Linked DNA regions of Homo sapiens. The protein of the gene in region 1 interacts with the protein of each later gene in a biochemical or structural test. Each region holds a gene or a part of one and is shown in the gene's direction. Other genes may lie near its edges.

The links.
Region 2: the proteins of DLG2 (region 1) and TMEM178A interact in a test that uses a peptide from one of them, tested with the Homo sapiens proteins (one large-scale study listed by IntAct).
Region 3: the proteins of DLG2 (region 1) and DGKZ interact in a test that uses a peptide from one of them, tested with the Homo sapiens proteins (one large-scale study listed by IntAct).
Region 4: the proteins of DLG2 (region 1) and SHROOM4 interact in a test that uses a peptide from one of them, tested with the Homo sapiens proteins (one large-scale study listed by IntAct).
Region 5: the proteins of DLG2 (region 1) and CLDN19 interact in a test that uses a peptide from one of them, tested with the Homo sapiens proteins (one large-scale study listed by IntAct).
Region 6: the proteins of DLG2 (region 1) and PDGFRB interact in a test that uses a peptide from one of them, tested with the Homo sapiens proteins (one large-scale study listed by IntAct).
Region 7: the proteins of DLG2 (region 1) and RPS6KA1 interact in a test that uses a peptide from one of them, tested with the Homo sapiens proteins (one large-scale study listed by IntAct).

What each region holds. Positions count from the first base shown.
Region 1 is NC_000011.10:83,454,673-83,458,008, reverse strand, and holds the end of DLG2 (disks large homolog 2), read left to right. Parts: 3' UTR 1-2,836; downstream 2,837-3,336. UniProt on the Homo sapiens protein: Required for perception of chronic pain through NMDA receptor signaling. Regulates surface expression of NMDA receptors in dorsal horn neurons of the spinal cord.
Region 2 is NC_000002.12:39,714,417-39,717,916, forward strand, and holds part of TMEM178A (transmembrane protein 178A isoform 1 precursor), read left to right. Parts: exon of another isoform or gene 1-846; intron 847-2,593; coding exon 2,594-2,835; 3' UTR 2,836-3,500. UniProt on the Homo sapiens protein: Acts as a negative regulator of osteoclast differentiation in basal and inflammatory conditions by regulating TNFSF11-induced Ca (2+) fluxes, thereby controlling the induction of NFATC1.
Region 3 is NC_000011.10:46,353,963-46,357,462, forward strand, and holds part of DGKZ (diacylglycerol kinase zeta), read left to right. Parts: intron 1-3,500. UniProt on the Homo sapiens protein: Diacylglycerol kinase that converts diacylglycerol/DAG into phosphatidic acid/phosphatidate/PA and regulates the respective levels of these two bioactive lipids.
Region 4 is NC_000023.11:50,811,395-50,815,615, reverse strand, and holds the start of SHROOM4 (protein Shroom4), read left to right. Parts: upstream 1-1,421; 5' UTR 1,422-1,597; coding exon 1,598-1,714; intron 1,715-4,221. UniProt on the Homo sapiens protein: Probable regulator of cytoskeletal architecture that plays an important role in development. May regulate cellular and cytoskeletal architecture by modulating the spatial distribution of myosin II.
Region 5 is NC_000001.11:42,732,593-42,734,914, reverse strand, and holds the end of CLDN19 (claudin-19), read left to right. Parts: 3' UTR 1-1,822; downstream 1,823-2,322. UniProt on the Homo sapiens protein: Forms paracellular channels: coassembles with CLDN16 into tight junction strands with cation-selective channels through the strands, conveying epithelial permeability in a process known as paracellular tight junction permeability.
Region 6 is NC_000005.10:150,135,346-150,138,845, reverse strand, and holds part of PDGFRB (platelet-derived growth factor receptor beta isoform 1 precursor), read left to right. Parts: intron 1-1,792; 5' UTR 1,793-1,798; coding exon 1,799-1,838; intron 1,839-2,967; coding exon 2,968-3,291; intron 3,292-3,500. UniProt on the Homo sapiens protein: Tyrosine-protein kinase that acts as a cell-surface receptor for homodimeric PDGFB and PDGFD and for heterodimers formed by PDGFA and PDGFB, and plays an essential role in the regulation of embryonic development, cell proliferation, survival, differentiation, chemotaxis and migration.
Region 7 is NC_000001.11:26,536,261-26,539,760, forward strand, and holds part of RPS6KA1 (ribosomal protein S6 kinase alpha-1), read left to right. Parts: intron 1-664; coding exon 665-709; intron 710-3,500. UniProt on the Homo sapiens protein: Serine/threonine-protein kinase that acts downstream of ERK (MAPK1/ERK2 and MAPK3/ERK1) signaling and mediates mitogenic and stress-induced activation of the transcription factors CREB1, ETV1/ER81 and NR4A1/NUR77, regulates translation through RPS6 and EIF4B phosphorylation, and mediates cellular proliferation, survival, and differentiation by modulating mTOR signaling and repressing pro-apoptotic function of BAD and DAPK1.

The sequences.
Region 1 (3,336 bases):
AATGAGAGTCTCTTTCCAAAAACAGGCATTGTTCATCTTACGCTAAACATCATTGTCTGCCTGGCTACAGTCACCAAAACAAAACAGAAATGCAAAATTATGCATCTTCCCATAGTCCTGAGGCTTCCTTTGCCAATGGAAGGGCTAGCAATGCATTCTCCCTCTCATGAAAGTTAAATTTCCAGAGACTTCCTTAGATTGCTCAAAATGTTAAAGATATGTCCATGTCTGCAATTCGCCAGTTTCAGGTCAAGGCCTACTTTCATCAATATTGCTCCCAGAAGTTTTCTGACACCAGAATGCCATTCCTGATCCCAGCTCTATTTTTAGGCCACCACGATAACTTCTTTGGTTTCTCAACTGAGCATGCAACCATTTATTTAAAAGACTGTCATTAATGAGTAGATGTTTTCGCGGGTCGTGTGATGTGCTTTCCATTTACTAGTGTTGCTGTGGCTAAGTACAATCAAATTGAACCACCAACCCTTGGTTTTGTAGTAATATAACTATTTATTTTCCTAGTGTAGATGCTTTCAGATTAGAATTGGCATTTGCACTGATTTTTTTATGTAGATTTATATAAATATATAGATACATATATATTTGCTTGAAGAATCACCAAGCAAATTGGTGAGAGGGTCTTTTCCAATAGAATTTACACCTCCATTTGTTGTGTTGTCTTGCACTTCCCAATGTTGATGTCTCTATGGCTCCAATGAACTGGTGTATTTTGCAGCAAATCTGATGACTTGTATGGAAATGGCATGAAAGTTACCCAGATTACATCTGGTGCAAATGCACTCGGAGCCTGGGGCCAGACTGGTGCTAACACTGCAAACTTTGTCCAGAGCTCTCTCCAACCTGAAGGCTTGCTGGGGGTGCAATGTCACCTTCACACATGCTGGGCCCTTTCAGAAAAGTGCCAGATCGTGTAACTGGTGCTATTTTTCATGCTCTGGTACAATGTGTAGCACCACGGGGGTCTCAGCTTTACCAAAATCAAAATTCCATTTGTCAGCTAAGTGCAGAGGCATTTGTTTTTTGCTCTCCTCCCACAGAATTGTCGGCCATTTATTTGCAGGCCTTTTGCGGGATTTCTTGGCTATTTATTTGCAGGCCTTTTTTCCCAGCCCCAAATTCTTGGGTTGGCTCTGTCTGCTTAAAGAGCCTGTCTTCACAAAGCTGCACTCGGGTGCCTCTGTGCGCTGTCTTAGATCCTACTGCCGGCCCTTCAGGACTCCGAGCCAGGAAAGAACTCTCCAACCTCTGGCTCGAGACTCTACTTTTTTTCTCATTCTTTTCCTTACTCTCCTCCTCCTTCTACTTCCGACTAATTCCATCTCTTTTTTTTTTTGTTCCTCTCCTTTTCCTATTCCTCCTTCCCACCATCTCTGAGTTGTTGACTTTCTCCTATAATCCTTCTCTATTCCCTTTCTCTTTTTGTCCACCTCTCCTTTAGTCTCTGTTTCTCTGCCCTTCTTATTCCTCTTCTGTCCTTTCTCCTCTCCTCAAATCTCTGATCATCTTCTCCCGTACATCCCTGTATTGATTTTTCTGTCCTCTAAAGGGCTCATGGCTGATTCAGACAGCAAGTCCATGCACTGGACTAATGACACAAATACTTTAGGTCGCCGTTTCACCTACTCAGCCCAGAAAGTAAAGCTGAGCGTGAGGCCCTGACCTGGAGCCTGCTCCAGCCCGCCTCCCGGAGCCAGCCTGCACCGTTGCCCTGGCAGCGATGATGCATGTGCTGTGGGCCCTGCCGGCGCCTGAGTGCCTCTGCCTGAACACTGCTCCTAAGCGAGCCCACTCCCAGCACTACCGCATGGCTCTGAGGACATTTTCTTTCAATAAAGGCAGACTCTGGCCCCAATTATTCTGATAGCAAACCTCTTCCTCCTCATTGAAGCCATGCCATCACCTTGGTTTGGAGAGAGACATTTTTTTCCCATTCATAAGCTTTCTTTTTCCCATTTTTATGTGAAGCCCCCTCTGCTTTTCAGCTGGTGATTGCTCTGGTGAGACTGAATGGACTTGCTGGTGAAATGAAATCTCTTCTTTCCTGTCTTGGTCCTGCCTAAATTCCTACAAATATATTTAAGCCAAGGACTCAGGCTAATTCCTAAGTTGATCACATTAATTTGTTACTCCTAGAGGGAAAAAGATCAATTCCCTTGAAGCATGTGGAGTACCTCCTGTGACAGCTGACTTGCCAGGGGACTCCCTACAGAATTCTGTGATATACATTTTACTTCTGTGTATGTATGGTATATATGGTATGTATACCATGTACACACGTTACATTGAGTATGAATGACTGTGGTTGGAAACACACACACACACTCAAGTCTGTAAATATCCTTCCTCACTGAAACCTGTGCTTTGGAAATCATTTCTTGTACAGCTGTGCAGTTTCTTGTAACAGCTGAGGACAAAGCTAAGACAGGCGGACAATTTAGACAAAGATCATCTAAAGAGTATAGTATCTCCCTAGCAACTCATGAGGACAGACAACCAAGTGGCAAGGTTGACTCCCAATGGGATGGCAGACTTTTCTTCTCTCCTTTTTGAGTTTGTGTTTCCTAAGTGTTTCTTAACTTCTGAGTGCACCAGGCTGTACCCGTTAGATCCTTTCAATATGACAGTTTTGTGCTTCTCTCTGACAGGATGTTTCTCCACCGAGCTGTAGCACAGGATGGGAGGGAGGTGGGAATACTCCTTGCCTAGGCTGGAGTTTACAGAGACACTGCACAGCTTACACTCCTGTTAAGTGTAAATATTCAACACTTCCATTCCATTTGTGTAAAAAATAAAGCACACACGATTATAAAATCAAGATGTATATTTCATACTCAGTGTGTCTGTGCATATTTATTGCGTTTCTAGTTGTCAGCGGTGGGTGGCCCCATTGTAAAAATGCCTGATAGAGTGTTTATAAACATGTCATGGTTTTATTATAAGATATAAATATTAAAACATTTTATACTTTATGGCAAATGATTTTCTCCCAAAGCATAATTTGTCTTATTTCATAAGGAATAGAATCACTCATGTCTATTTTTATCAATTTTGTCTCTGATTCCAGAGCTAAAATGCAATTAGGGTGGGTATGCCCTGAGAAGTATTGGCACTGCTGAGAGGAAGTGAAAGTGCTGTTTTTGCATATTCTTAAATATTTGGTTACCATCTTGCCTGCTTTTAATCGGGATTTTTCCAAAAGTGAACAATGTATTAAAAGATAGATTTTTAAAGATGCTCACAGCTATGTGAGGGGAAAAATCAATTTCCCAGTGTCAAACTGTGGGATTCCAGAAGATATTAAGGATACAGAAAAAT
Region 2 (3,500 bases), on another chromosome or scaffold:
CAAAGGGACAATCAGGTTTCTGAGGCAAGATGGATCCAAGAGTGAGATTAGAAGCCAAAAGCATGCCATGAAATCCCATACTTTTGCTCATGGTGGGCTACAGATTTAGCTTTAGGGAGCTTCAGTGCTCTGGCAACTTGGATAAAGAAAAATTCTGTTAATGACATCATTCACAGTGTCCATGAGGTAAGCACAAATCAATTCCCCAGGAAAAGCACAAACATCCATGACACTGAGAGCAGAGAGAAATCATTCTGGTTAAATCCCCAGATTAGATTGTTTCTTGTAATTCTTTTCTATTCAGTATGAACCGGTGGTTTAATGATAGAATTCATGTCATCAAAAGCAATTTTATGGGGTTGGCAGGGGAGAGGAGCTAATGAAAGAAATGTTAAGTGTAAAATCAGAGGGAGTATATACAGAAAGATAGATACATAGGACATTCCATTTTCATTTAATTGCATAAGCTGAGTACTAGATTCACTAGGAAGTTTTAATAAATATTCTTGTTTCATGTTTCATTTTGGAATAACAGAATCACAGAAATTTGACACTCTTAGGGACTTCAGTAATCAAGTTTCCCACTCTTTTTTTCCCTAGATGAAGAAACCAAGGCTCAGAGAGGTTAGGTAATTTCAAGTTTGCACAGTGTTTAGTAGAGCTGGAAACTAGAATACTTATTTCTCACATCCCAACCCAATGCACTTGGACATGAAAGGATGCTTAAAAGTCTAGGTTTGAACTCAAGCTTTCATAGGTCATTAAAACAATGTTACTTGTAAAAATGCTTGCTTTTAGGCATTCAGCTATGTGCAAACAGCTAAATGCAGAATAAAGTTGTTTTTCCTGTGAAGAGGTCATTGTTCTATTATTCTATTTTACTTGTTGATGCTCCAAAGATTATTTTTTCTAACTGCCTATTGTTCTATTACCAGCATTTATTAAAAGGGCTTTGTTATATATAAAAACTGCCTTTGTTTTGGTGCCAGTGAAAACATTTGTGTAGATCTAAGAACATTTGCTTTTCACAAGGTTTGAGAAAAGTGGAGTATTCTTTTTTGAATGGCCCATTACTTTATGAGAGAATTATTTCCATCTTGATTTTTCTCTTTGAGAACTCAAAGTGATATGTTTGCTGTAATAAATTGGAGCAAGAAGTCAGAAGAAAAGATTTTATCCTTTTTAGTAAAACAGAATCACTTTAGAGTTTAAATGCAGAATTAAGCAAAGAGTAGGAAATATCAAATTATCTCAGATCCAGTGTCCTTTTAATTTAGAACATTTATTGTCTAAGTGCACATTTGGAAGCGGATTCAGGCAACGTGCTCTTACATGATTTGAATGGAGGCAGAATTCTAACATTTTAAAGATGGCATTAAGGTGGTCTTTATTTCCTCCAAATTGCTGCCTGCCCTGAATTTGTTTTTCTGCTAGCATTTCTAATCTCCAAAGCTATAGGTTAAAAAAGGGTGGTGGGTAGAGGGCGGGGAGCTTTGAATGGGTTGGAGAGGTAATCTGCTACTTTTAGCTCTCTCTTTTCAGTTTCAAAATCTGTGTCTCTGTTTCCAGTGGAGATGCTACGTGTATCCCTAAGGATGCCAAAGGAATTTTCCAGTCAATAAATGTTGTCTCTGTTGTATACAGGGATAAACCAGACTATGAAGAAGAGATGTGTAGGATTCAGAACAGAACTGGACATTCTGATACTTGATTGGGTGCCAGTTTCTGTTTTTATTACTCACCACACTCTGATCCTCTGCCTATCCAAAAGGAGCATCTTGAGGGTCCATTGCGGTGGAATAGAAGCACCTATATCCACATGAATTGAGTACTAAAAATCCTGTGTTTGGGGCTTATGAAGTATTTTTAAAATCAGTCCTGATTTTAGTGTTGCAGAAGGAAAATTACACACACATGGATTGGTCTAAAAAGCAAAGTTTTGGGTCTGTCCATGTTCCTTATGTCACTCCAATTGCCTCCATTTTGAATGGTTGAAATGGATGATCTCCTTGCTCAGCTATTTTACATCATATGGTATATGTAAGACTGTGCCTTAACAAAAAAGATTTAGCTACTTGTATGACTTCATCTAAAATATTATTTAAGGCAACATGATAAATATTTATGATAATGTTAATTGAAAAAGAAAGCAGATGTTGTATAACGATTACAACAGAATAACTGTATGAAATTAGGTGGAGAGCGAAGGAAAATGAAAACTATTTTGTGCTTGATTTGAGTGATTATAGAAGTTTTTCTCTTAAAAATAGAACTTTTATTGTTTTTAAGAATAAAAAAAGAATTCCAATATATATAACCATTTGAATTAGATAATTCTGAATAATTCAGGTTATCAGAATTTTCCTGTCTCTTTCACTCCTGCATCTCCATTCCCTAGTGTAGGGTCTGGCACACAGAAGTTTTGCCAATGTTTGTTATATGAATTAATTCAAGTAAAATAATTATGGATCATTTGTGAATTTGGAGTGACTGCCTCAGTGGTTGATCTGATTTTCATAAAGGCCTGTCTGGCATTTGTCTTGTAACAGGCAAACTGTAACTAATCATTCTGTTCTCTTTGTATTATTTATAGGGATATTTTGCACCATTTCCCTCTGTACTTATGCCGCCAGTATCTCGTATGATTTGAACCGGCTCCCAAAGCTAATTTATAGCCTGCCTGCTGATGTGGAACATGGTTACAGCTGGTCCATCTTTTGCGCCTGGTGCAGTTTAGGCTTTATTGTGGCAGCTGGAGGTCTCTGCATCGCTTATCCGTTTATTAGCCGGACCAAGATTGCACAGCTAAAGTCTGGCAGAGACTCCACGGTATGACTGTCCTCACTGGGCCTGTCCACAGTGCGAGCGACTCCTGAGGGGAACAGCGCGGAGTTCAGGAGTCCAAGCACAAAGCGGTCTTTTACATTCCAACCTGTTGCCTGCCAGCCCTTTCTGGATTACTGATAGAAAATCATGCAAAACCTCCCAACCTTTCTAAGGACAAGACTACTGTGGATTCAAGTGCTTTAATGACTATTTATGCGTTGACTGTGAGAATAGGGAGCAGTGCCATGGGACATTTCTAGGTGTAGAGAAAGAAGAAACTGCAATGGAAAAATTTGTATGATTTCCATTTATTTCAGAAAGTTTGTATGTAACAATTACCCGAGAGTCATTTCTACTTGCAAAAGGATTCGTAACAAAGCGAGTATAATTTTCTTGTCATTGTATCATGCTTGTTAAATTTTAATGCAGCATCTTCAGAACTTGTCCTGATGGTGTCTTATTGTGTCAGCACCAAATATTTGTGCATTATTTGTGGACGTTCCTTGTCACAGGAAGATTCTTCTTCTGTTGCCTTATTGTTTTTTTTTTTTTAAGTCTCTTCTCTGTCTTTGTACTGGAATCGAAATCATAAGATAAACAGATCAAACGTGCTTAAGAGCTAACTCGTGACACTATGCAGTATTGTTTGAAGACCTGTTGTTCAACCTCTGTCT
Region 3 (3,500 bases), about 37 Mb from region 1:
TTTACAGAGAGAGGCGGGGGCGGTTGTGAAAGGGGGCAAGCTGGTTCTTGCTCCCCAACCCACACGGACACCCCACTGACACAGCCTGCCACCACCCACCCACCTCTGGAAGGCATCCCCTTGGGGGAGACCTTCCTTCCATCCTGAGGGCCCTGAAAGGGTGAGGGACAGGCTGCCAAAACCATCCCTGGTAGACCCAGGGAGCTCTAGGGGGCTGGTCTCCCTCAAGGGGTCTTTTGTAGGACACAGGATCTCCCTCTGTCACCCAGGCTGGAGTGCAGTGGCACAATCATAGCTCACTGTAATTTCAAACCCCTAGGCTCAAGCAATCCTTCCACCTCAGCCTCCCGAGTAGCTAGGACTATAGGTGGGGGCCCCCATACCGGGCTCATTTTTTCTTTCTTTCTTTCTTTTGTAGAGACGAGGTCCTGCTATGTTGCCCAGGTTGGTCTCGAACTCCTGGCCTTAAGTGATCCTCCCACCTTGGCCTCCTGAGTTGCTGAGATTACAGGCCTGAGCCACTGTGCCCAGCCTCTGGAGTCTTTTTAAGAAATGATTTTGAAATCTTTCTAAACACATTAAATATCTTGGCGTTAGAAAAGTGTGCAGAATAAGGTGACACCTACTGCCTAGCTTGGTTGGAGCTTAGCATTAGGCCATATTTGCTTTAGATAGAGATGGAGGCCCCTGTGTCTTACTCCCTGGAGGAAACCACAATTCTGATTTTGGTGTGTGTGATGTTCTTGTGCCTGTTTTTAAAATTGTCCTACATAGGTATTCATGCCTAGCAACATACAGTGCTGTTTCGTATGATTTTACTCTGGTTTAAATGGTATACCAGGCATATTCTGCATTTAGGTTTTTCCCTCAATATTGTTTTGGAGATTTAACCATCCTAAACATGAATTCTCACGGATCCATTTTAACCTCCACGTCCGATTCCATTGTGTAACAGCAGCTTATTTGCCCAGGCTCTGTTGACGGACACTTGGGTGGTGTGCAGTTTTTCGCTATTGCAAGCGATCCCTCTGTGTTCTCTCCACCAGTGCTTGCTCACAGGGTCTGTGTATTTTCAGCTTAGACAGATGTTGCCAAATTGTGCTCCGAAGTAGTTGTCCTAATTTTTAGGCCTCTGTGTTTATTTTTTTATTTTATTTTATTTTTTTGAGACAGAGTCTCACTCTCGCCCAGGCTAGAGTGCAGTGGTGCGATCTCGGCTCACTGCCAGCTCTGCCTCCCGGGTTCAGGCCATTCTCCTGCCTCAGCCTCCCAAGTAGCTGGGACTACAGGCGCCCGCCACCACGCCCGGCTAATTTTTTGTATTTTTAGTAGAGACGGGGTTTCGCCATGTTAGCCAGGATGGTCTCGATCTCCCGACCTCGTGATCCGCCCGCCTCAGCCTCCCAAAGTGCTGGGATTACAGGCATGAGCCACCGCGCCCGGCTATTTTCTTTCTTAAAACTTTCAGTAAACTGGGGAATTGTTTCCCAGGAACAAACACTTTCTCCTTCAAGCCTGCAACACTCCCTTGAGAGAGACGAGGGTGGGCATTAGCCCTATTTATCAGATCAGGAAACTGAGGCTGAGGCAGGTTAAAAGGCTTAGCTTGAGGTCATGTAGCTGGTCAGAGGCAGATCCTCTGGGCCTTTGAAGCTAAACCTACTGTGAAGGCCTTTGTCCCCTGTGTGAGTAGTGTGGAAGCCTGGAGAGTGGGGTGGGGCCCTGGGGGCTGATGGGGGAGGGAGCAACATGGTCAGAAAGTTGAGGGGGGAGGTGTTAAATTTTTTTTTTTTCTTTTTTTGAGATGGAGTTTTGCTCTTGTTGCCCAGGTTGGAGCGCAATGGCGCGGTCTCGGCTCACCGCAACCCCTGCCTCTGAGGTTCAAGCGATTCACCTGCCTCAGCCTCCCAAGTAGCTGGGATTACAGGCATGGGCCACCACACCCGGCTAATTTTGTATTTTTAGTAGAGATGGAGTTTCTCCATGTTGGTCAAGCTGGTCTCGAGCTCCTGACCTCAGGTGATCTGCCCGCCTCAGCCTCCCAAAGTGCTGGGATTACAGGCATGAGCCACCCGCCCGGCCAGGGTGTTAATATTGAATGAGGGGTGAGGGGGAAATGCTTCTCCCAGCAGATGGGGAATGGGAGCCCTCTGCAGACACAGGAGAAGACAAGGATGGGACGGTCACCAGAGAAGAGTGGGGGCCCGCGAGGGGTTTATAACAAAGGGGCCCCTTTGGGAGGCTAAGGGAGATATATTGGCATTCCCATCAGGGATCGGTTTCAGTGTTGCCTCTGAGACACCAGAGCTCAGCCCAGACCAGACTTGTCCACCCAGTGCAGCAGGAAGTTCTCGGGAGCTGGCCCACTCCTGGGGCTCTGTGCCCACCTGAAGCCTGTGCTGTCAGCGGGATCCATGAGGCTGAGTCCAGACCATGCGCTGTTCCCTCCACTCACTCTTCAAACCACACCCAGCACTTCTACACTCTGGGGATGCCATTAGAAGCAATGTGAGGCCCTGGGGCTCACAGCCTGTCCGGGGATGCAGATTTGCACATTAGTGCTGATTGCCCAGGGTCTGAGAGGAAAACCATGAGGGAGAATTCACTGAGTAGAGAGGGGAGTGGTATTCCAGGTAGGGAGACCACCGGATGCCACGTGGTGCCACGTGGAAAAGGGACCCGCGGTGTTTTGTTTGCCAGAAGCATCCAGGGTGGAGCCTGAGGGGTCGAGGGTATGTGCCATGGAACACACTACTGAGTTCAAACCCCAGCACTGCCACATGTTAGCTGGACGACTTCAGGCAAATGACTTAACCGCTTTGTCTCTCAGTTTCCTCATCTGCAATATGAGGATACGGGCCATGGGGATAAGAATACCAACTATTCTTAGGAGGATTCGTAGCTTAATATTTGTAAAAACACTTAGAGTAGTGTCTGGTGGAGTGAGTTATGTAAGTGTCAAATACAGCATTAAAAATATGAAAGAGCAGAGAGGAGGCTGGGAGGCCTGTTGCCTGCCAGCCCCAGGTCTTTGCATTTTGCTCAGCTGACAGTAGAGTCAGTAAAAGGTGATTGGGTGCTTTAGGATGAATTCTGATGGCAGCGGGAGTCTGGCTTGGAGGGAGGCACTAAAGGAATGGGTTGGTCATTTGTTGCGCAAACATCTCTTTGAGGCCTAGCAGGGGCTGAGTCAGGGACTCGGATGTGAAAGAAGAGACTGGGGGTATTTCACCAAGGAGCTCAGGCCAGCTTAGGATCCCCGCCTAGCCCCCAAGCCTCTGAGACAGCCCCTCCTCCCCTTTCCTTGCCCACCACCCTCCCCTTGTGACTTCATGTCACCAAACCGACTATCTAGTTTTCATGAGAAAGCCATGGAGAACATGGAGCGGGCGATAGCATCCAGCCCAGAAAGGGGCCTCCAGGTGTCACTCTTGGGGTCCTCTAGAGAGGAGAGGAAGGTGGCCACCCAAACCAAGGCTGTTGCCATCCCCTTGTACCCA
Region 4 (4,221 bases), on another chromosome or scaffold:
TAAACACCTAAATTGCCATTTTATTAAAGAAAAGTCAGGGCAGCATCATATATGCAGACAGTCCAGGGGGGTGCTAAGAAAAAAGGATTGATGGAGGGGGGTGACTTTGAGAGACATTTCAGTGGCCTGCTGCAGCACACCGCAGGCTGCTGTGCGTTGAAGAGGCAGTGACAGGTGAGGAAGTAGAAGTAGAGAGTGGAAACCTTGACCGCAGAAAGCTGGCTGTGAAGGAAGGGGCCGCAGTGTGTTTGTTGGCCATGAAGAAGAAGCTGCACAAGAACAGGGGAAGAAACTGAACAGGCGAGACAGAGTGGGAACATCCTGTTGAGTCACAACTGAGTTGTCAACACTTTCTCCGCTAGTGCGAGGCCCTTTAAAAATTCACTGCCCGCATGTGGCTCCAGAGAAAACACCTCAAAGAGAGAAGATAACCTGTCCAAGTGAAGGCAGAGAAATCAGCACAAGATTCAGTAACAAATTCGCTTTTCAGGACTATTATTGTGGCTGTTTGGTCTATTACAAAAGCCCAGCTCAGAAACTACAAGGTCAAGCTTGAACAGATGTGCAGAGATGTTCTGGACCCAGTCTAAAAGCTGATTCTTCCCAAAGGCACAACATTATTAATTGGCCAGCTTATCAATGGATGCTCTTTCCTGTAGGTTTGTTTAGAGACAATACTGCTAGTCATAAAGTTTGCTGATTGCTGGCTTGCTCATCTCGGTGGGGCAAGTGCAAGGCCGTGCCAGGAACTCCAGATGACTGGAACATACACAAGCACAGTGCTAGCCATAGACACCAACACTGAGCCAGGGTGCGGGGGAGCCCGAGCAGGGGGCATCCTCAAAGTGCTTCTTTATTTAAACTATGCTCTGGGGCAATGTTTCATAATGACCCCACACACCTAGCGCGTACACACAGAGCAGTCTACACACACAGCCTCACTATGTCCGCTGGCCTGCTGGCTTTGCTTTCCACCCCTCTAGGCAAGGTCCACAAATTAGCAGCCTTTTAACCCTCCCAGGTCTCCGTTCTCGGGACCTTCAGAAGAAAAAGGCAGTCAGAGAAACATGAACGCGCTAATCAGGAAACCAGCGTTTCAGCCCACTCAGCCACGCGGGCCGTCCACACTAACGACTTTCACCTCCCCTCGCCTGGGCTGGCTGGAGGGGCGGGGAACCCGGCAGTAAAGAGGAGGACCAAAGAGGGGCCCTGCTTGAATGAAACAATGTAACAATTGATGTGAGGCCTCGCCTCGCTCCCACTCCCCAGCGATCCTATAGGCGAGGTCCCAGTGACTGCCCCTCCCCATTGCTCCGTTTTCTTGTCCATTACGCGCTATCCCTCCGCCTCTCCTTCTTTCTTTTCTTTTCTTTTTTTCCCTTCTCCTTTTCCCCCCTCTCTCCCCCTTTCTCCAGCTCCGTGTCATTTCCTCCTTGCGCTCGCTCGCTGCCTGAGCGTCTCCAGCCGGGAGAGTAGGCGGAGCAGGGCGGTGCGGGGTGGCGTAGAGCTGGAGGGCGATGGTGGCGGAGCTGCTGGGGGCGGAGGCAACGTAGCCCCCTCGGAAAAGGAGCCCGGCGGCGCCTGAGCCCAGCCGAGGATGGAGAACCGGCCTGGGTCCTTCCAGTACGTCCCTGTGCAGCTGCAAGGGGGGGCACCCTGGGGCTTCACCCTTAAGGGGGGTCTGGAACACTGTGAGCCGCTCACAGTGTCTAAGGTAAGAACTGGCGGCTGATGTCCTAACGGCGCCTAACTTTGAATGGACAAGCGGGTGCGAAGGCTGCCGCTGGACGGGGCCCTCAGGCCAACTTTGAAACTTAGGGCTGGGAGCGAAAGACCCTCTGAGCGGCACGGAGGGGTCTTGCCACCAGTCCAGGTGCAGACATCCCCTAAGGGTGGCTGGAACACGAGCTGGGAGCACAACTGGCCCCCGGCTAGAACCTTGCGCGCAGACACACTCGCGAGGGCGCTGGGGCAGCCCTTGCTGCCCCACGTCGGGGCGGCTACTTCCCTCAGTTTGGGCCGAAGGAAGTGGAGGCTGTTGGGGATTTCTCCTTGGAGGCCTCTGCGTCCCTGCGGGACAGTGAAGGACTGAAGGGACAGTCATCGCGGCTTGGCAGCTCTCTTGGCAGCGTTGTCCCCTCTATCGACCGGCGGGCCGTCCCTCCCAGGCAGGTTGCAGGGCTAGGGGCTGGTGTGGGAACGGAGATGAGGCCATTGGTGGCTTTTGCCAGCCACACTTCCCACGGCCGGACGCGCACACATCCATTCAGCTCTTGGGGCGTTGTTGCCGCCGGTTCGGCTCGGCCTCTCCCTCCCTCCAGAGTCCTGCCCCAGCGCCGGCGAGATTTCCTGCACGTTGAGAAGTGTGGAGGAAACTTGCGCCATGGAGCGCAGCTGTGCTGGAGCTACTGCTGTTGCTGCTGCCGCTGCCGCCGCCGCCGCCGCCGCCGCCGCCACTGCCGCCGCCGCCGCCGCCGCCAGGGTTTGTTTGTTTTAGGAGTCTGTGATCTGCTGGAAGCCAAGTTGCAGCTGAGGACAGGAGAGAGGAGCTCTCCTGAGTGCTCCAGAACCCCCAAAGCGAGCCTCCCCCGTAGGGGTGAGGGCGAGGGGTAGGGGCAGCTGGAGCTGTTACCAGGAAGAGTGACTTGTGGGACGACTCACCTTGAGGTGCCAGATTGCCAAGTGAACGGACTTTACGAACTTTATTCCACTTTTTTGTTGTTTCTCTTAAATCCTCAAATCCGAAAAGCCCTCCCGCTTCCAACCCGCTTAAATGGCAGTTGAAGTTGTAGATGTGGGTTCAGGCTGGAGATAGAAAGATGTGTCTTTTCAGCAGGGAGCAAATATCACTTTTTTTTTGCGGGGGGGTGGGGTTCAACATTGGTCACATCTCAGCAGAGGGTTCAGCAAACGTCCACCGCAACACACACCCACAATAACCTGTGCGGCATTCGCCTTGCATTGGAGCCTGTGGTTGACTTCCAGTGTATGGGATCCTTCAGGCCTTGGGGCCCACACTCTTAGCAACCCTGGAGTGTTGCCATGGGTGTACCAATCAGATTGAGGAGTCTGAGGTATGCTGAGGCAACATTTTGAGGGGCTGGCAGGGACCCCTCTGATCATTAGCCTCCCCAAACTAGCCCAGATCTTCATCCAGCACCCTTTCCCCCATACTTGTCATGTACTTTAACCAGCCTGAGATGCGTTTGTCATCCACTGTCACAACCCCTCCTGAGGCAGTCTCCCTCCAGTGTTCTCTGGAGAAAGTTATATGCTTTTTTTTTTTTTTTTTTTTTTTAACAAAAACACTCAACTCCTTTGGTGAGGGGAATCCTGGCCTTCAGGAATTTCTTCTAATCAAGCTCCTCCTCTCCCCACTCTTTCCACCAAGGTCACAATGGGATATGCAGCCCTCCATGATCTGGCAGTTCCTCCCTTTCTTTTTCTCCTCACACCGCCCACAGAATTTCCACAGTCTGCCTAGACAACCTGCCTTGGAGAGGTCATTTTTCAGCTCTGCCCAGAGCTGACCCATCTTGAGAAGCACCCCAGAGAGTGCTTGCTGCTGTGGTCCCGGATTATTTTGTGAGCCAGTGAGAGCATGGCAGGGGGTGTTACTAAGTATGGGGCAGCCAGCAATTTGTGGTCTGGCTGGGGGATTATTTGAGAGGGTAGATGAGGGTTTCCTTGGCCAAGCTGTAGAGGAAGTGCTTCGTGTGTTGAGAGGCAGGGTGCCTTTTAATGATTCCCTTTCCACTGAATGTACAGTTGACCCCTATTATATGAAGGCTCATTATGACATGCATTTAGATATGCAAGGGATAAAATTATTTCTCCCATTCCTCCCAAATAGCCTAGTTCTTAACAGTAAAAGTCAGTTATAACTGGGTTGGCTTCAACGGTATATAAAGGGACCATAGTATTTTTTTAAGCACAATGATTGCCTGTATTGTGTTTTTCTTGACAAGACACTGTTTTGGCATATTTCATTAATTCCCTCTTCATTTTTCAACCTTGATTTTATTTCCTTTTATGATTCAGAACAATACAGCTTTCTCCTTGAAAACAGCCTTCTTAGTCTGTACACACTGGTTGGGATGGGTGGAAGGTAATAGAAAGATAATTGGGTTGGCAGATTAAAAACTTGGGTTCTAATCCTTTTTCTGCCACTCTCTAGTTCTGGAATCCTAGGTATATCACTTGCCCTACCTGGGTCTAGGC
Region 5 (2,322 bases), on another chromosome or scaffold:
TTGGGCAGAAAGATGAGGAGACAGAGGTCCAGGGTGGGTTACATAGCACATCCAGGGCTAAGCAAGAAATAATTCAGAGGTCCTACCCTCTGTCTAGGGACCCCCCTCCCAAGCCTGGCCTTGGCCTTGGCACAAAGTCCTCCTTGATAGGAGATCCCACTCACTCCTGGAGGCTGCCCCTGAGGCTTGGCCCAGCTCTAGGAGCAGTCCCCAGGGTCAGGGAGCCCCTGGTGTGGAAAGAGGCCCCAAGGTAGTAAACCCTGCCCCTGTTACTGTGCTCCAGAGACCTCCTAAGGGAAGGGACAGTTCCTGGAAGGCCCTCCAGCTGGATGCTGGGGATCAGCGATAGGTGAGGGGACACAGTGTAGGAGCTCCCCATGTAGAAAAGGGAATGTGGGGAGGGCGTTAGGAGCTTGCAGGCATTAGGACTGTCCTGAGCAAGGTCTGCAGCCCCCAGCTCTGCTCACCCCGAATCCTGCCCCTTGTTTCCACACCTACCATTCCTCCTCTCCTGATCCCCAGCATCCAGCTGAGGTCCAAGGTCTTTGTCCTAGAATCAGAGTGGGGAGGGGACAGCCTGGGGCTGCCCAGAGACTGTGGGTGGAGCTGCCTGCTGCACTCAGCAGTGCGGTCAGAGAAGGGCTTTTGGTCTTGAAGTCCAGGTACCATCCCCCCTTAGCATACAGGGGGAAGGGCCTGAGAGGAATGTAAGGAAACCAGCCCAGATCAGTCCCAAGGCCAGAGTCCTTTGTCCTACATCTCCCTGAACCAGAGTGTGCCCTGCCCCTCATGCTCAGACCTCTCCCACCCCAAACCCTCTCCCGGGACTCAGTCTCCCTGGCCACTGCGTATCAGGCTTCTGGGGAAAGCATCCATCACAGAACCTCCCCTTCCCTGCCACGCACCTTCCTTGGCCAGCTCCATTCTGGCCTCCTCCACCACCTGCCTTGTGACCACATCTCCCACCACGTCCCCAGATCTCAAGAACGCAGCTCAGCTTCTCCTTCGAGCTTGACTCTGAGAGGGAAAGTGACGGAAACCAAGTCAGATGAGATGACTGCCATGTACACTGCAGTCAAGGGCAGGGAGGGGAGGAATGACACAAATGGCAGGGAGCTGCTGGGGGACTGACCCCTCGGCGCCTGGCCTGGCCGGTGCTGCACATCCACCGGGGCACAACAGGGACTTGTCCAGCCTCTGGTCAGAGGATGTGGCCACCTGACCCTAAATAGGTTCCCCAGAGTCCTGCCCCTCTAATGAATGAGAACTGCAGGAGTTTCTCCTCTGGGTGCCTGAAGCTATAGTGCAATGGTTCCCAACCCTGCATGCACATTCGAATCACCTGGGGGCACAATGCCTAGGCTCCAACCCCAGACACTCTTATTTCATTGGTCTGGGTGGACCTGGCATCAGAAGTCATGTAGCTCCTCAGGGGACTGTAGTGTGTGGTCAGCACTGAGGGCTCCTCTATGAGGCCTCAAGCCCAGGTGACTCTGTGAGGTCTGCAGAGGGAGAAAAGAACCCACAAGGGAAGAGGTGGAGGTCAGGCACGGTGGCTCACGCTTGTAATCCCAGCACTTTGGGAGGCCGAGGTGGGTAGATACCTGAAGTCAGGAGTTCGAGACTAGCCTGGCCAATATGGTAAAACCCCGTGTCTATTAAAAATACAAAAATTAGCTGGCTGTGGTGGTGGGCACCTGTAATCCCAGCTACTCGGGAGGCTGAGGCAGGAGAATCGCTTGAACTCGGGAGGTGGAGGTTGCAGTCAGCCAAGATCGTGCCACTGCACACCATCCTGGATGACAGAGCAAGACTCCATCACAAAAAAAAAAAAAAAAAAGAAAAGAAAAGAGGTGGGTAGCCGGGCGTGGCGGCTCATGCCTGTAATCCCAACACTTTGGGAGGCTGAGGTGGGTGGGTCACAAGGTCAGGAGTTCGAGACCAGCCTGGCCAACATGGTGAAACCCTGTCTCTATTTTTAAAAAATACAAAAATTAGCCGGCTGTGGTGGTGGGCACCTGTAATCCCAGCTACTCGGGAGGCTGAGGCAGGAGAATTGCTTGAACTCAGGAGGCGAAAGCTGCAGTGAGCCAAGATTGTGCCACTGCACTCCAGCCTGGGCAACAGAGCAAGACTCCATCTCAAAAAAGAAAGAAAGAAAAGAGGTGGGGAGAGGAAGCCCCACTCACTCCTGCCTTTCCCAATACCAGGCTGTTCTGTGACACGCCCACATCTTCCCAATCAATTCCCCTTTTGGCTGAAAAAACGTTGAGTTTGAATCCTGTCCCACACAGCCAGAAGAGCCCTACCTAACAGGATTTG
Region 6 (3,500 bases), on another chromosome or scaffold:
CTGCTAATGATTTTCTTTGGCTGAGATCTCTAGCAGGAAGGGGGCAGCCAGAGGGGCACCGACGGAGGGGCAGATGGGCCTCTGTGGGGGCTGCTGGCTCCGCCTTGGCGCTGCTCCCTCCTGACCAAGGAGGCCTGGCATCCAGCTGGAGGGGCTGGGGCAGAGGAATGGTGGGGAGCAGAGGCTGGAGGGGGCGTCAGAAGGGCTGGGCTTTGAGTCAGGAGCAGTTCAGAGAGGGGAGAGGAAGAAACGAGGAGACCTTCAGGCAGGCAGTCTGAAAGGGAGGAGGGAGGAGAAGAGCTGATTTGCTCAGACTGTTTCTTGGGGTGTTGGGAAGAGCTAAGATTGGGGGTCCATAGGCGGGAGGAGCCTTGCCTATGTCCCACCCCTGACATGTGAATGCAGCCCTGGTAGGTGAGGTACTCACCATCATCCACTTCCAGAGCTGGGGACTTAGGCCACAGGGAGAGCGATGGCACAAGAGGTGGCATGCTGGGGCCTGAACCCGGTCTGCAGACCTAAACTGAAAACTAAAAGGGGTGAGATGGGGAGGTAGGGGCAAGCTGGGCATGGCCTTCAGAGGCAGGCCAGGCTGGGCAGCCCCACAGCCAGAGGAGGCTCCTTGTTGCCTCATCATGCCGTCACCTCCCAAAGCTCATGCTCTGCGACCCCTGTCCTCTGGCGTCCTTCCTGCCAATGCTGCAGGCAGACTCTTGGCATACTTGGCTCCTGGTGGTCTCTTGGGACCTGAGGTGTGTCTTCCAAGATAGAGGAGAGCAAGGGCCACCCCATTCAGTCTGTCTCTGTCTTTGTCCTTGCTTCTGTCTCTGTCTTTGTCCTTGCTTCTGTCTCTGTCTTTGTCCTTGCTTCTGTCTCTGTCTTTGTCCTTGCTTCTGTCTCTTAGTGCCTCTGGTGCTGTCTCTCTGGGCACCTCCTCTCTGTCTCTGTGTCTTTGTCTCTTTCTACTTCTATCATTCCAGGTCTCTTTCTCTCTGTCTCCCTCTCAGACAGGCTCTGCTGTGGAATCTTGGGTAAACTTCTCACCTTCTCAGAGCCTCAGTTTCCCCATCTGCACCCTGGGGGTGGGGGTGGGGGGAGCCTGGCTTCACTGGTCTCCAAGGACCTGTGAGGCCTGGCTGCTCGATGGGACCTCTCCTGGGCCCAGCCCCTAGCCGCTGTCCCCTGGGCCTCCCTGTATGCTCTGGGCTGAGTAAAGGTGTCCAGGCCCACCTCCCACATTCCACAGCCCCGGCTCCCCGGCTTCCCTTCCCACAGCCCACAGCCTCCTCCATTTCCTGTTGTGCTTGTGGAGCTGCGGGAGTTCTCTGGGTTCTGGCCTCCCCCCTCCTCCTCCCATCCCTTTCATCACACTTTCCCAAATATTTGTCCTGGCAGATAAGAGCCTGGTATTGGAACTGTCACCCGGAGGACAGGCTGTCAGAGCTGGTAGGCTACTGGATACCATCCAGCCCAACTTCCCCTCCCTCACTGTACAGACAGGGAAACTAAGGCACAGAGAGAGTCTGGGGACGCAGCCGAGGCCACGTGAGAGTCACAAGCAGAGCCAAAGCAAAGGCCAGGACCCCAAGGCTAAGTCCGGGATGGAGAGGAGACAGCCTGTGGTCATGAGTGCCCTTTCAGGCTTGGGACGTGGTGGCTTTTGACTTCAGCCCCTCGGACATGAAGGCTGGGTGGCCCAAGCTGGGGCTCATTCTGCAGGAGCCAGGTGGTGAGATAGCCCCTGTCGCTGCCTCCACCTGCCCTGGGCCCTGACTCCTGTTTAACTCTGCAGGACACCATGCGGCTTCCGGGTGCGATGCCAGCTCTGGCCCTCAAAGGTGGGTAGATGGGAGATAAGGTAGGGGACCCGGGGGGCTGCGGAGTGGAACCCTGGAGCTGGCAGGGGTGATGTGTGCTGGTGGCAGGGCGTGAAGCACCAGGCACACTGCCCTGCCCTTCAGCTTTAGTTTTCAGGATTTCCAGTGGGCTCTGTGGAGGCCTCCAGCTGCCAGCCCTTCAGCTCAGAAAGCGTCAGTGGGCCCCTGCTTGTCCAGAACCATCAGCTCAAATCCTTTGATTGGCCCTCCAGACCCCATCCCACCTTCTGGCCCACACCCCTGGCCTCCTATCCTCGGTCTGGTGGATCTGTGGCACTCGGCTTGGACCCCTCATTGGCTGGGAGCTTCCAGGTCCCTGCTGGGCTTCTCAGCACACCCCACCCCTCACTCCTGCCCGTTAACATGTCTTCAGCTCTGCAGGGGCTGAGCGACTGACCCAGCAATTAATGACCAGCCAGCAGCCTGCCCGGCAGCTGGCCATAAGATGGACTGGCTGCCTGACCGCCCACCTCCCCTCCTGATCTGTATCACCAGGGGGCATGGAGGGCGTGGCCTGAAAAATCCTTCTCCAGGGGATGTCGTGGAGGGGGACCAATCACTTGACACACACACACCCCCAACCCCAGTTCCCTCCAGCCCAAAAGGGCCTCAGCATCTTTTCTGGCCCCCCTCTGAGCTACCTAAGCCCCTCCCTCCCATCTCTCTCCCACCCAGAGCCACCTCTGGGCCTTGGGCAGAACCTGGGCAGTCGGGGGAGGGGGCAGAGAGCTGTAGGGAAGAGGCTCAGAAAGTGACCTGGGAAGCAATGCAGGAACTGGAGGCCAGGGAATTGCTTCCCGAGGATTTCCTGGCCCCTTCTGGTGCCTACTGCCTACACATGGCACTGCTGAAGGACTCAGAGGCTGGGGTCTAACGGGACTGACAGAGGCAGTCCAGAGGAATCCCTGGGGCCTTGGAGCTGGGCGAGCGGTCCTCAGAGCCATGGCTGGAGAGCCCCAGTCTGTCGGATAAAGGAGCTGTGCTCCTCAAGGACCTGAGGGCTGTGCATACGTGGCCTCCTCGCAGGCTCAGCCTTGGGAGAGGTGCTGAAGCCCCTGTTTCCTGATGTCTGATACCTCCTCTCCCAAAGGCGAGCTGCTGTTGCTGTCTCTCCTGTTACTTCTGGAACCACAGATCTCTCAGGGCCTGGTCGTCACACCCCCGGGGCCAGAGCTTGTCCTCAATGTCTCCAGCACCTTCGTTCTGACCTGCTCGGGTTCAGCTCCGGTGGTGTGGGAACGGATGTCCCAGGAGCCCCCACAGGAAATGGCCAAGGCCCAGGATGGCACCTTCTCCAGCGTGCTCACACTGACCAACCTCACTGGGCTAGACACGGGAGAATACTTTTGCACCCACAATGACTCCCGTGGACTGGAGACCGATGAGCGGAAACGGCTCTACATCTTTGTGCCAGGTAAGGGCTCCCAGCCTGTGTGCCCACTCCTTACCCCTCTTGTCAACTGGAGGCATCAGGGGAAGTCCAGAGAGTGCTTTAGTTTATTGTGAAATGCAGCCATCCTAGAAAAGCAGACAATCATGGAACCAGCCTGGCTCAGTCGGGGAGTGTGTTCGCACCCACTCCTTGGTCTGGGTGATCTGCCTGCTCCCTGCCAGTCACCCTAT
Region 7 (3,500 bases), on another chromosome or scaffold:
CTCGTCTCTGCCCTCGTGGGACTCCCCATTTATTAGGAAGGGCAGGCCTGTGTGTAAATAGTCCCTGCAGTGGGACAAGTGCTACAATGAAGGCTGAAGTGGAGGCAGCAGTCATTCTGCCTGGCAAGGTCAGGGGAGGGGTCCCAGAGTGGGGCAGGGCAAGGATAGCCACCATCTCTGGGTTGCATGCTTTCCCAGACTTTGTCTCCTTCCACCCTTGCAGCAACTCTGGGAAGTCAGTGTAACTACCCCACCCCATGTTACAGATGGGGAAACTGAGTCCTCTCACAGTTGACTAGTTTGTACAAGGTTTGTATCTGGTAGAGCTGGAAGCCACACATGACCCTTCCCTTCTCCCTGGGAGGAGGTGACATTTGAACTAAGTCTTCAGAGATGAAGTGTTTGCCAGGCAGACAGCATGAGGGTCAGAATGCTGGTCCCTGGGAATATTCTGCCTGAGTCATGAGGCGCCATTGCCAGAATACTTGGTCCCTGTGCCTACACCATGAAAGTGGAGGTGGAGGGACCCACCCAGGACTCCTGCCCTACCACCATGGCCTCCATGGCTATTGGGAGCACCTAAGGGTGGGGGTGCCCCACAGAGTCTTTCTCCCAAGCGTGTAAGTTCTGACAGTGCTCCCCCAATCTCCTTTCTCTTTTCCAGAATGGACAGACCTCAGGGGAAGAAGCTGGACTTCAGCCGTCCAAGGTGAGGACCATGGCCAGCACCCTGAGCGAGGGGCTGTGGGGGATCCTGTTTGCATGGCTTTGGAGGAGGTTGAGGGCTCCAGCCTCTAGCCCCTTTGCCCAACTCAGCCGTCCTTCTCAGGGCCCACCGAATCCTTGTGGCAACCCTGGGCATAGAAATCACTTGTTCCAACCTTCCTATTTTGTAGGTGAGGCGACTGTGGCCCAGAAAGGGTCAGGAGCAGAATCCAGGTCAGGGCTCTGGTTACCTGTCACCCAGGCCAGGATGCCCCTGCAGTTTATTTACTCATGGAATTTGGGCTGGCTCTAAGGAGTGATGGGAGGGGCTCAGGCCAGCTGTCCTGCTCCTTTTGGTAGAGCTGCGCTTGCCAAGAGCCTGGAAGTGAGCATCTGGGCACGTGAGCTGGAAAGGGGGTGCTGGTGGCCGCTCAAGGCTAACCAGGCCCATTGCCTGGCATGTGGCACTCATGGCATTTCTTAGGGCTTCCACTTCCCAGTGTGAGGGTCATTCCCTCACCCCTGCTATCTCTGCTTCCCCTGGGCCCCTTCCTGTAGCCCCCTAGCCCCTGTTGCTGGTTTTGTGTTTTGCCAGAAGCACCAGGACTAGGTGACAGTGGTGTGACCTTGGGGAGGTTCCTTGTACACTCTGGGCCTTGGCTTTCTCATCTGTATATTGGAAAAGACCACATCCCCTTCACAGGGTGGCTGTGAGGTCACAGGAGATGCTGGCTATGGAGGGTCTTTGGAAGCTGCTTAGGCAGGGACAGAGCATGGTGTTAGAGCAAATCCGGGTTCCAGTCCTGGCTCCATCCCCACCATTTAACCAGAAGCTCTTCTCCCTTCTGAGTCTCAGTTTCCTGAGCTGTAAGTTGGGGAAACAGTGTCTGTCTCACAGGAGCAATGTGAAGGACGATGAGATAGTAACTGCCTGGCACATGGCAGCTTCGGTGCCAGCACCGAAAATGTCCTAGTATATTGCTCAGCTCAGCTTCCTGCCAGTGACCCCACCTTCCAGACCTAGGTTGGCTTGAACACCAGACCTGCCATAAGCTTGACCTTTGAGATGGATGCAGGATTAGTCCTGATGTTTACCTTGACTCAGCTTCCTAAGATGAGGTGACTGAGCTGGGTAGGATAGGGCAGGTGAGGGAAGTATTCTCGCACCACTTCTCTGTGGGTTGCTGTGGCAACCTTGGACCAGCAGAGGCCAGTAAATAGTGTGGACTGGGCCCCTTGGTTTAGCTCAGCCCATGTCTGCAGAATCTCCTCCCACAAAGTAGCTACCTCTTGTTGCCTAGTAACAAAATGAAGAACTGTAGGTTCCCAGTGAAGAAACACGGTGTTCAGATCTCAGGGCTGAGGTTCTGGGGGTTGCAGAGGAGCTTGCAGCATTTAGGGACCTGTGCTGAGTACAGCTTCTCACCTCAAGAACTGGAGGAGCTTACTGGGAGATGGCAGGAGCTTGCCGAGGCAGGTAACCTTTTGCTCCCAAGCCTATGACTCTTGCTCTAGAGCAGAAGATCCTGGGGTAGGAAGAGAGACAGGGCTGGAGATGGATGGGACATGGAGTCTCGAATGCCACTTAAGGAAGAGAAAGAGCTTAACCTATGCCTAGCATCATACCAGGTGCTTTGCATTTAGTTCTAACTACATCCTTGGAGGTAGATTGTTACTGTCCCCATTTTACAGATGAGAAAATTGAGGTTCAACATCACATAGCTGGTGGGCAATGAAGACAAGTCTTGTTTGGCTTCAAGGTCATTCCTCATAGTCCAGAGAACCCTGAGTGCTGAAGAGGAGGAGCACTGGCTTTCTGTGATTCCAAGTGGGACCAGTCCTGGGCACCTGCTCATCCATCTGTTGTCCCAGCCACCAGTGTCCCTAATGCCCACTTCTGGGCTTAATACACCAGGGGGCGCTCAACCTGTGGTCCGGACCTCATCACTTTGTGCAGTGGAATGAGCTGGCAATGGGCCACTTTATCCTAATCAGACATTCGGTGCACCCTGTTGTTCACAGGAGGGCCTAAAATGAAGTCAATATCCCCCACCTTCGAGAAGCTTCCAATCTTTGGGCAGAGGGTAGAGACAGGAAAGCCATGTGGTAGGCGCTATGATGGGGCAAGAGCACAGCTGTGGGCACATAGAACCTCTGCTCTGTGCTAGGCCCATGTTGGGCAGAGACGTATACCACCACCTTCCAGGTGCCCACATTTCTCTCCGTAGCATGACGAGATGAGCACGTCCCCGGGAACCCAGCTGATGGCATCTGAGTTCAGGGCTGAGTGTGGACCAGAGACATGGTCATTGCCGTGCATGGCCGAGGAAGAAGAGTTGGGGTGGGCTCTAGGGCACAGGCCATGTTCCCTGCGGAACTGGCATTTGGCTGGGACTCAAAAGGCAGGATTTGGGCAGCTGGAGAAAGAATTGGGCCTTCCAGGTGGCAAAGAGGCAGGGAAGAGAGTCAGGGATTCTGAGTTCAGAATCCTGCACCTATTTTTTATTTGCCTTGTAACCTTGGGCAAGTCATTTGCCTTGCTGAGGCTCGGGTTCTTTCCTGAAAAATGAAAGGAGAATAAAGCCTATTTCTCAGGGCTACCTGGAAAAGAGAATGTGGTACATATAAATTAAAGTATCTAACAGGGCTTGTGGCACAATGTTGCTGTTTAATGCTTGTTTATTTTATTCATTTCAGGCAGAAAGCGGGATTTGGGATTTGGGATTTGGCTTTTAGCAGCAATAGTGTGGATAGCCATCCAGGGTGAGAACTCTCTGGATCCCCTCAGCACCTAG